3 linked regions of the Homo sapiens genome follow. The protein of the gene in region 1 purifies or fractionates together with the protein of each later gene. This does not show direct contact. Each region holds a gene or a part of one and is shown in the gene's direction. Other genes may lie near its edges.

Region 1 (3,654 bases):
CAAGCACCCGCAGGAGTACTGAACTTTTTGGGGGGTGGGCAGAGGGGATCTGTATGCAGATTGCCAGCTGAGCAATCCTATTTTCTATGACTTAAAGCCAATCACAGGCTGGGCGTGGTGGCTCATACCTGTAGTCCCAGCACTTTGGGAGGCCGAGGCAGGCGGATCACTTGTGCTCAGGAGTTCCAGACCAGCCTGGCCAACATGGTGAAACCCTGTCTCTACTGAGAAAATACAAAAATTAGCCGGGCGTGGTGGCGGGCGCCTGTAATCCCAGCTTCTCAGGAGGCTGAGGCAGAGGAATTGCTTGCACCCAGGAGGCAGAGGTTGCAGTAAGCCAAGATCACACCACTGCGCTCCAGCCTGGGCGACAGAGAGAAAAAGAAACTTGTCAGCGTTCTAGATTGACCAGTTTTCCTCAAGGTCAGGTAGTTAGGAAGAAAGAGTGCAGTTTGCAGTTGTGAAAAGTCTGATAATGGATTCTTTTTTTCTTTTTTATGCGTGAAGGGATTCTGGAGTACGTCTGGTCTAAAGGCCGATTTCGTTTTAGGAACTTTGGATCAGAACAGTCATACTAGTCCTCAGAGAAAAAATGGTTTTCAATCTGGTTCTTCAAATTTCTTGTTCATATAACCAAGCCATGCTTGTTCCTATGATGGAGAACAATTGTGCTTTAAAAAAAGAAATTTCAGGGCCAGGTACAGTGGTGCGTGCCTGTAGTCCCAGCTATTTGGGAGGTCGCGGTGGGAGGATGACTTGAGGCCGGGAGTTCCAGACCAGCCTGGGCAATATAGTGAGACCCTCATCTCTTAAAAAAAATAGTAGTAATAGTTAGCTGGGCATGGTGGCGCATACCTGAGTTACCTGGGAAGCTGAGGCAAGAGGATCACTTGAGCCCAGGAGGTCAAGGCTGCAGTCAACCACAATCGCGCCACCGTACTCCAGCCTGGGTGATAGAGCGAGATCCTCTCTATAAAAAATAAAATAAGAAAATGATATTATGGAAATGAAAAACTCACCCTATGTAGAGAGAAGAGGATGAATCTGTGCAGCCATCTACCAGCCTTATTTTACCAATTTCCTACTTAAAATGACCACTTGAGAATTCCTTTCTCTATATATCAGATAAAAAATACTTGGGTTTTTTCCCAGAAGTGTCCTTATGGAATCATTTGGCATCTACAACCCAGTGCTTGCTTGTCATGGGTACCCCAAGTGTTAACCTGTCAGGAAGGAGGTAATTCAACAGGTAAACCAGTGGCCAGGCCTTGGGTCCACATTTCATTTTCCTTTTCTCAGCCTAGTTCTGCATTTACTCATCTACAGAGGGAAATAATGACGGAACCTGTCCTACACGATGACGATGAGGAAGACTCCAAAGTTCCTAGACCCCTATTAAAAATATATATTTTTTGAAATACAGACTCACAGGGGATTTCAAAAACAGTACCTGGAGTCTCATGGACCCTTCAGCCAACTTCCCCATGGTGACGTCTTCATATCCGTGGGACAATATCAGAACCATGTCATCGATGTTGGTATATCCTTATTAAAGAGAACACATACCTCGTTCAGCTTTTTTTTTTTTTTTTTTTTGAGACAGGGTCTCACTCTGTTGCCCAGTCTGGAGTGCAGTGGTGCGATCTCGGCTCACTCCAGCCTTGAACTCCTGGGCTCAAGCAATCCTCCTGCCTTGGCCTCCCAAAGTGCTGGGACTATATACAGGCATGAGCCATCGTGCCCGGCTTGTTCAGGCTTTATTAGTTTTCAAAAGGTGCTCATTTGTGTTTGCGAGTGTGTGTGTAGAGTTCTGTGCAGTTTTACCCAGTGTGTGGATTTGGCAGCTACCACCCTCCAAACCATGGTGCAGGATGAATTCCCTCACCACAGAACACCCCTCGGTCTTGCTCGACACTTTTTTTTTTTTTTTGAGACAGAGTTTCACTCTTGTTGCCCAGCCTGGAGTGTATTGACCACAACCTCTGCTTCCCGGGTTCAAGCGATTCTCCTGCCTCAGCCTCCCGAGGAGCTGGGATTACAGGCATGTGCCACCATGCCTGGCTAATTTTATATTTTTAGTAGAGATGGGGTTTCTCCATGTTGATTAGGCTGGTCTCAAACTCCTGACCTCAGGCGATCCGCCCGCCTTGGCCTCCCAAAGAGGTGGGATTGCAGGTGTGAGCCACCGTGCCTGGCCAGACACTTTTTTTTTTTTTAAACTTTCACACACTATACAATCTGAAAATATTTTATTTTCTTAAGAGCTAGGAGATCTTCATAATTAATGATACATGGTTCTCAGATCTAAAGTGCTTATACTGGTAGGTTTTCTCTTGTCCTTGGTTCTCCTGAATTGGCCAGAATTTCCTTTCCTCTCCTTGTTGCTGGGTTCTTATTAATGCCTCAAGTTAGTCGGTTCAGGCAGTTGTAGCAAAACACCACCGACTGGGTGGCTTATAAACCACAGACATTTATTCACAGTTCAGAGGCTGGAGGTCCAAGATGAAGGCATGGCAGATTTGGTGTCTGGTGGGGACCTGCTTCCTGGTTCATAGATGGTGCCTTCTCGCTGTGTCCTCACATGGTGGAAGGGGTGAGGGAGCTCTCTGGGGCCCCTTTATAAGGGCAGTGATCCCATTCATGAGGCTCCAACCTCACGACCTCATCACCTCCCTAGGGCCTCACCTCCTGACACCATTACCTTGCAGGTGAGGATTTCAACACAGGAATTTTAGGGGGACACAGACATTGAGTCCACGGCATCCCCACCCTGTCTGTCACACAGCATGCTGCCGGGACGAATGGCATCTGAACTGGTGAGATTCTACTGTGTGCATAAATCAGCAGCCTTGTGGGCAGTGTTGACATAGCAATTAGGAGTGTTGTTTGTAGCCTAACAATACACAGAAAGTGGAGCTCAGCCCTTTGATCTTATTTACCTTATGTGGGTGCTCCGTGTGAGACAGGCTCATGCATGTGTGAATGACAGTTTCCTTTAAGTGCATCACGCAAATGCCAAGAGATGAGATCAAATATTACACATCAGAGAACATTTCCAAGGATAGAAGTCCTGCCGGTTTCTCCTCTTCATTGTTTATTTCATTTTATTTTTTTAATTTAAGTTAAAATACATGTTAAATTAAATTTAAGTTAAATTAAGATACATGTGCAGGACTTATTTTAAATAAAAGAGACAGGGTCTCGCTGTGTTGCCCAGGCTAGACTTGAACCCCTGGGCTCAAGCATTCTGCCTGCCTCCGCTGCTGGCACATAAATGCCAAGTGTGCAGGGACCTCTGTGTGTTGGAGCCACTTTCATCTCCCACATCCAAAGAACAGACCCGGCACTTAGTGTGTGCCCAAGACCATCCACCGCATGAATAGAGAAATCAACCCTCCTCATGTGCCTGGGGTTTCCTGAGGTGGGAAACCTTCAGTGCTAGCTGGGAGAGTCGCAGGCAGAGACAGGGACAAGCTGGTCACTCTGTGTGTGAATAAATAAATGAATGGATGATGGCATTATCGGCAGTTGTTCTTTATGACACTCACTGATGCCAAGTACTGGACGGGTACAATATGTACATTAGTTTCTCTATGGGCAGAAGCTCCACCATGACAACATTAGTGTTATTTTCTTTTTGCTTTTTTGTTTAGA
Region 2 (3,654 bases), on another chromosome or scaffold:
GACTTGTCATACTTCAGGGATAAAGGGATACATTTCTGAGCAGCAAAGAAGGGAGACTGGTGGAGTGGTAGCAGCTGGGGCTTTGTATGTTTGTTTTGGCCACTTAGGAATAAAATTCACTTTGGCTAAAGTTTTAACTCAAGCTTTCCTTAGCAATTTATCTTTGATTTGATGCCAAATAAACAGCATTTTAGATGAAAACATAAGCCTTTCTAAGAAGCGAGGGGGTGAAAAACGGGAAGTACTCTGGCAGCCTTCATAGTAATTTTGGCCACAGCCACGAGTATAATAAATATAACTTGCTTTTATTCCATCAATTTGTTGATTAACTGGAATAGTAACCAGCAGTAAGTGTATTTCTGTGTTGTGTTCCAATATTTTAACATTATCATAATTCTTTTGCTAAGAAACCATATCTAACTTCTTAAATCATGAACGATACATTATCTCCTGTGTGGATTTAAGCAACCTTGTGTACTTTAAAAATGGAAATGGTAACCAAATTGAGAACAATGATTAAACACATATGAATGCACTTAATGTTAAATTTACTCATAATCTTGACCATATATAGAAACAGTATTTTTCACTCATCATTTAAGCACTAGAACAAGGACCCACTTTTCTTCTGATAGTTCTTTTCCTAATTCACTGGCGGCCTTTGCTTTGTTTTTAATTTGCCAATTAAAACAATTTCTATACATCTCTGACATTGATATCTCTTCCTTTTTAAACTCAAGAATAGTACATACAGAGTCTGGACTGAAAACTCCCTTGACTCTATCTCGACTATATGTGAGTTACATTACCTGCATTGTTGTTACTCATAAGAACATAGAATCTATGAGTATGTGTGTGTATACTCAGGTTCCCTAGTTATTACAGATACTCAACAAATCAACCTAGCAAAAACCATTCCATCTTTTCCAGGAATTTTAATCGTATCTATTTTTCATTTTCGTTTTCTTTTTTTTTTTTTTTGAGATGGAGTTTCACTCTTGTCGCCCAGGCTGGAGTGTGATGGCATGATCTCAGCTCACCGCAACCTCTGCCTCCTGGGTTCAAGAGATTCTCCTGCCTCAGCCTCCCGAGTGGCTGGGATTACAGGCACCTGCCACCATGCCCAGCTAATTTTTGTATTTTTAGTAGAGATGGGGTTTCACCATGTTGGTCAGGCTGGTCTCAAACTCCTGACCTTAGGTGATCCACCCGCCTTGACCTCTCAAAGTGCCGGGATTATGGGCATGAGCCACCGTGCCAGCCTTTTCATTTTCTTAACACCCAATCTTCAAGTCAAAAAGCTCTTCTGCTACTCTCTTTTATGATCTTGATTTACATCAACAATTGTCTTATTCATGATGGCCAGTGACAGGACAATGACTTTCTCAAAGGTGTCCCTTTATTTTTGGCCAATAGAGATGTTTTGTGTGTCAGCTTCATCACAGAGCAAGATGGAAAAATATAGGCCTCATCAGTCTCATGCCAACCAGAATGGGCCTTCAACTTATGGTGCTGGTTTGATTGAATGGACCACTGCATGAGTGGTCGGTGTCTGGGTTACTGGATTTTCTCTTCTGGTTATGAGTCACTGTTTTTTTCTCAATGTTAAAATGAGTGAAGACCATGACTCTAAACCTGTGACCTTCGCAGAAGGAAAACATTGTTACTGTTGCCATCGGTATTATTTGGCATCTACAAAGTCATAGAACAAAAACTTGCATACATTTTCTCCCTCAGGAAAATCTGAACTTGGCTCTGAACTCTGCCTCAGCCATCGGGTGCCATGTGGTCAACATAGGGGCTGAGGACCTGAAGGAGGGGAAGCCTTATCTGGTCCTGGGACTTCTGTGGCAAGTCATCAAGATTGGGTTGTTTGCTGACATTGAACTCAGCAGAAATGAAGGTAAGAGCAAGTCCCAAAGGTCATTTATGACACAGCTTTCTAATAACTTACGCGTTGGGGACTGTAGGAGGAAGATGTCAGAAATTCTCAAGTTTTGAAAACTACACAGTTATATTGATTCCATGGTATTCATGTCACAGATTCTATACACACAGACCAGACGTTTTTTAATGATAGAGCAAAAGCTTTTTAAGACCATAGACTAACAATAATGTTTGTTTGGAGCATAGGGCTCAGTCTTGAATGTTTGGCACTCTAACCTCAAGAGGTTTTTTCAGAGCTCACTTTGCCTTTAGATATTTGTAACAAATAAGAGGACTTTTAACTTGCACTTTGCGAAGTAAGCAACTCACATTCATATACTATAGTGAAGGTACCAGATTAGGAGGAACTTGGTCTATTTCTTATCAAAACTATAGAGGAAGGTATAGGTCAAAGGGTTCAAGGTTGCAATTATATGGGATGAATAAGTGGAGATCTAAACAGCACGAGGGCTATAGTTAATAATATTGTGCTGTATACTGGTAATTTGCCAAGAAAGTAGATTTCAGGCACTCTTCCTACAAAAAAGAAAGAAAGAAAGAGATAGAGAGAGAAATGAAGAAAGAAAGAAAGAAAAAGAAAGGTAACGATATGAGATGTGAGTATGTTAATTTGCTTGACCAACAGTAACCACCTTACTGTGTATGTGTCTACCAAGATAAGTATACCAAAACATCACGTTACACACCTTAAATCTATGCAGGCTAGAATAAACATTTTTAAAGACCGTAGAAAATTCCATTTAGGGTTTCAGAGTTCTCAACTAAATATGTAGCTGTCAATCTTATTGCGTCTTCTCTCACCATCTTATCTGTATGTAAACAGTGACAGCCCCCTGGCTTAGACAGAGGTAGCCCACCTTGATAAGTATCATGCAAAACACGATGTTATCTTTTAGTTATCAGGTACAAATCCTACCAATATGAAATCTGTAGTCAAGTTCTAATCTTTAGTTATACATACTTTTTTATTTATATGTCCAAATCACAATAACCAATGAAAAATCCTGAAATATTATTTAAAAACCAATGTATTAAACATAATATAAAGAAGGCGGGGGAGAGGAAATAGGGATCTTAGAACCTGTGAGAAAGAATATTGATCTTCAAATAATGACCTCAGCTAAATTTAAACCTTCTAGCTGAGCAAAAAAATACTTACTCATCTGGGAAAACGTAGAGGAGAGTTGATTACATTGTTGAGTTGCTATAATTAGGCAGGTAAGCACTTGAAATATAAAACACCTATGGGAATAGACAAGAGAACATTGTTATTATTACAAAATTGATCTCTTAAAAGCAAAAATGTTGTCATATTGTGAAATGTGGTTTGACAGACCCAGCAAAACATCCGAGCCAGTAGCCTTGGTTATTTTTATGGCTCTGCCCAAATGTTCTTAAACATAGCGTTGAGATTCACTGTGCTTTGTTTTCTCCATCTGGAAAATGGAGATAATAAATAAGCTCACAATGGCTTACGCCTCTTTTTAGGGAATAATAATAAAATATTTAATCCATGGGAAAGGCTACAAGAACCTTTACCCCAAAGAGGTAACGTTGTTATCTTTAGCTTTTTAGCAGAGCTTAATGAAAGTTATAACCAACCCCCCTCCCCCAACATCGCTGCATTTATTTTTCTGTGGTTTTTGTGCTTCTTCAGCTCTGATTGCTCTTTTGAGAGAAGGTGAGAGCCTGGAGGATTTGATGAAA
Region 3 (3,637 bases), on another chromosome or scaffold:
GAACAGCTCAGCAGTGTTCACTCAGCAGGTTAGCTGTAAACCGTGATCAGACTCTAGGTGACTGAACTCCAGCCATACGGTTAAAAAGACCTGCGTATAGTGGGAAAAGCATTGATTTGGAGCAGACCAAGGTTGAAATGCCAGCTCTGCCACGTGCCAGTTGCATGATTCTGGGCCAGTGAAAGCACCTCTATGGACCAGTTGCTCGCCTGTCAAGTGGGGATAATGACACGCACATTGTAAGGCTGTTGGGAGGATGGGATGAGAGAGAGTGGATGTGGCACTGAGCACAGAGAGTGTGCAGCAGGTGGTCCACCAGGAATGTGCACTGAAGATGGCAGGAGCCCTGCTGCCCTCCTTCAGCCTGGGAATAGAAGCTCTGGGAGTCCACGGGTTCCAGTCAAGCTCAGGAGGTGCAGAGGTCAGGCCAGAGATGTCAGGCTGGGGCCAGAGGGTGTGCAGGCTGGGCTGCTCTACCATAGCCCAGCTTCCCTGGATGACTGCATGTGGGTGAAGTGGGGTTTGACTCTTCTGCACTCATGATGACACCATGATGTGCAACTCCAGCCCCCTCTGAAGTCTCTGTTGATAGATGTGTACCACACTTCTTGGCTTACAATATAGACCTGGACACTTCAGTAGCCATTGCCTTCCAAGAGAATTTATACCAATAGGATAAAGAGTTCTACTAGGAATTAGAGGTGGGCAGATTCAATTCGACACCCTCTTGATATGCTAAACGTAGCACCTCTTTCCAGGCACAGTGTGAACATATGTCAGTTCAGTAGGTAGGTGTTGAGGCTCACCTTGTTTACAGTCTATGCAGCTTGCTCAATTCACAGCAGCCCCCTTGGTGGCTGAGAGGAGGGGAGAAAGCTTAACCAGATTCCCGTTGTACAAATAGTCATAAGGTGACTTTTGAATTTGTGTGAATTGATTGACATTAATGAAAATGAGTGGGTGACCTTAGTTCTTCCTTGCCAAAGGATTCTTTCTGGTCAAATCCTGCCATTTCTATATGACAATGCAATTTGCTGGGAAGACGGGGATGTGTGTGCAGGGGTAGATGTACCCTGGCTATACCTGGAGCACAGGGACTTATTGGCTACACCTGGCCATCAACAAGATCATCCACCTGGAAGTCCATTAGAATGACCTGGGGCTCCAAACACACCCTGCCCAGGCCCTACCCATACATTCTCTGTTTGGCCTGGTGGGGCTTGGGCATGTTACGTTTAAAAAATCTTGAGTGATTCTGAGGTGGAGTCATGGCTGTGGCTTCGCTGTGGCATTCTGGTCTGCGTGGAGCCCTGAATGGCAGGGTTTTACGGCAAATGCAATGACTGCCCAGGGGCTTCTAAGTGACCCTGACCTTTTTCCCAAGTGTCCCACCTCTGAACAAGCCTCTGGCTATTTTTGCTTCCTCCTTTGCCACTAAGGGAGCTACTGTGAAAAAAAAAACAAAAACAAAAAAGAAAACTTGGTATTTGAGAGAATCTGGGTTGCCTATGGAGGAAGGAAGGAGGCTCTAGAAGACAGAAGGAGGGGAGCAGATCCTGGCCAGGTTCCCAGGCTGAGCCAGACTGCCCTGGAGACCACATCCACCACCCACGAGAAATGCCCATCCTAGGCCAGTGGGCCAGTTTTCCTGGCTTTTCTCTTTGCCATGCCCTTCAAAATCCCACCAATCTATAATAACTGGGTTAGTGTGAGCTGCTTCTTCCATCTTAGGAAAATTCCTGTAAGCATATCCTTAGGTTATTTTCCCTCTGACCCCTGCTGAGAGGAGGTGCCCCAGGGAATGAGGAGGGGGTTTATATCGGTATAGGGGCTCCTGGAGGGTTCGCAGGCCAGTGTGGAACGTACAGCTGCATGGGGCTCAGGGCAGGCTGAGGAGGGTCAGGAAAGAGAGGCCCTGGGAGAGGGAGGGTCAGGGCACTGTACTCAGAGTGCAGCCGAATGAGACCTTGCCTGGCCCTGACACCAGGTGAGAGAAGGGAAGGTCATTTACTTTTCTGCCCTGTCTCTGGGTCCCGCTCCTGGGCTCCAAACTCCAGCTACTTCCCTGACTCATCTGGTTTACCTGGGTGCATGGAGCATGTGGTCATTGTGGGATTAGGCCTCAACCCACTGTGCAGTATGGGACCTGCTTGTCTATCGGGAAAGCTCTCACAGGCTTTGCTGCCTAAGGATGGCGGTGAGGTACCGGAGCTGCCAGGATTTCTCTGCAGGCCCCTCAGTGAGTGTCTGATCCACACGTTCTGACAGAAGGAAGGTGAGGTGTGCAGGAGGCAGGGGCAGTGAGGACAGGCTGTGGAGTTCCTCACCTGGTACAACTGAGTCATGAAGGAAGAATCGGGCCTTGGTGAGAGCTAAGGGGCTACTGTTCTCTTCCAGATGCGTGAGGGATGACACCTACGGACCCTACTCCTCGCCATCTCTTCGCATTGCCCGCTTCCGGTTCAGGGCCTTCCACTTCCTGAACCGCTTCCCCTCCGTGTACCTGCGTTGTAAAATGGTGGTGTGCAGAGCGTATGACCCCTCTTCCCGCTGCTACCGAGGCTGTGTGTTGAGGTCGAAGAGGGATGTGGGCTCCTACCAGGAAAAGGTGGACGTCGTCCTGGGTCCCATCCAGCTGCAGACCCCCCCACGCCGAGAAGAGGAGCCTCGGTAGGTGGTCGCTCTCAGACCCCACTGTCCACCGGGGCGCAGACCCCTGACTCGGGGACTTGGGATGTTCCTCTTGGTGTCATATTCCAACTCAGATTGAGCCCTACATTGTGCTGCACCTGGTCATACGGAGTTGAATCAGACCTGGTTCCCGCCTCCCCCAAGGCTCATGGTCCTTGGAGGACCCGTTGCAGGGTGAGGTCAAGAGAGTTCTGACCTGGATGGCCCATAGACCTGACGTCCCAGAATCCATGCTTCTCATCTGCAAAATGAAAATGTCAATACTTACTTCTTAGCACTGTTGAGAGGGTTACTTACATAAAGGAATTTTGGTGAAACTGCCTCAGCCTGTTCCTGGTGCAAGTCATTGAGTGCTTGGTAAATGGTAGTTTTTGTTACTCCTGTTGTTGTCACCCATGTTAACAACACCAATGATGACAGTATTCCTCACAACGATAATAACTATAACAGCAGACGTGTTGACATCAGGGTCTAGACAGGGCCATGGGGACGCCAGCTGCATGGATTTGTCCTGATCGCTGGCAGGCTCTACTGGGCACAAGCTATGTCACTTTTCTTCTCCAGAACAGGGAGTGCATCTGCTGCTGTGCTGCTGTGTTGCTGTGCGGCTGTGCTGCTGTGTTGCTGTGCGGCTGTGATGCTGCGCTGCTGTGCTGCTGTCATGCTGTGCTGCTGTGATGCTGTGCGGCTGTGCTGCTGTCATGCTGTGATGCTGTGCGGCTGTGCGGCTGTGCGGCTGTGCGGCTGTGCTGCTGTGTTGCTGTGCGGCTGTGCTGCTGTGTTGTGGGCATGGACGAGGGAATGAATGTTTGCAGAGTGATGCCCAGGATTTCTGGCCCAGTCTGGGGCTAGGTCAACAGATGTGGTGGCCATGGTGTTGGGGGTGGGTGGGGCAGCAGTAGTTGTCACAAGCCCTCTCCTTGGTCAGGGCGCTGCCCATGGGGCA

What was found.
Region 2: the proteins of PRKX (region 1) and LCP1 purify together in Homo sapiens (affinity purification with mass spectrometry; one large-scale study listed by BioGRID and IntAct). This does not show direct contact.
Region 3: the proteins of PRKX (region 1) and DMBT1 purify together in Homo sapiens (affinity purification with mass spectrometry; one large-scale study listed by BioGRID and IntAct). This does not show direct contact.

What each region holds. Positions count from the first base shown.
Region 1 is NC_000023.11:3,707,126-3,710,779, reverse strand, and holds part of PRKX (cAMP-dependent protein kinase catalytic subunit PRKX), read left to right. Parts: intron 1-3,654. UniProt on the Homo sapiens protein: Serine/threonine protein kinase regulated by and mediating cAMP signaling in cells. Acts through phosphorylation of downstream targets that may include CREB, SMAD6 and PKD1 and has multiple functions in cellular differentiation and epithelial morphogenesis.
Region 2 is NC_000013.11:46,151,029-46,154,682, reverse strand, and holds part of LCP1 (plastin-2), read left to right. Parts: intron 1-1,737; coding exon 1,738-1,903; intron 1,904-3,604; coding exon 3,605-3,654.
Region 3 is NC_000010.11:122,640,725-122,644,361, forward strand, and holds the end of DMBT1 (scavenger receptor cysteine-rich domain-containing protein DMBT1 isoform e precursor), read left to right. Parts: intron 1-2,397; coding exon 2,398-2,674; 3' UTR 2,675-3,012; downstream 3,013-3,637.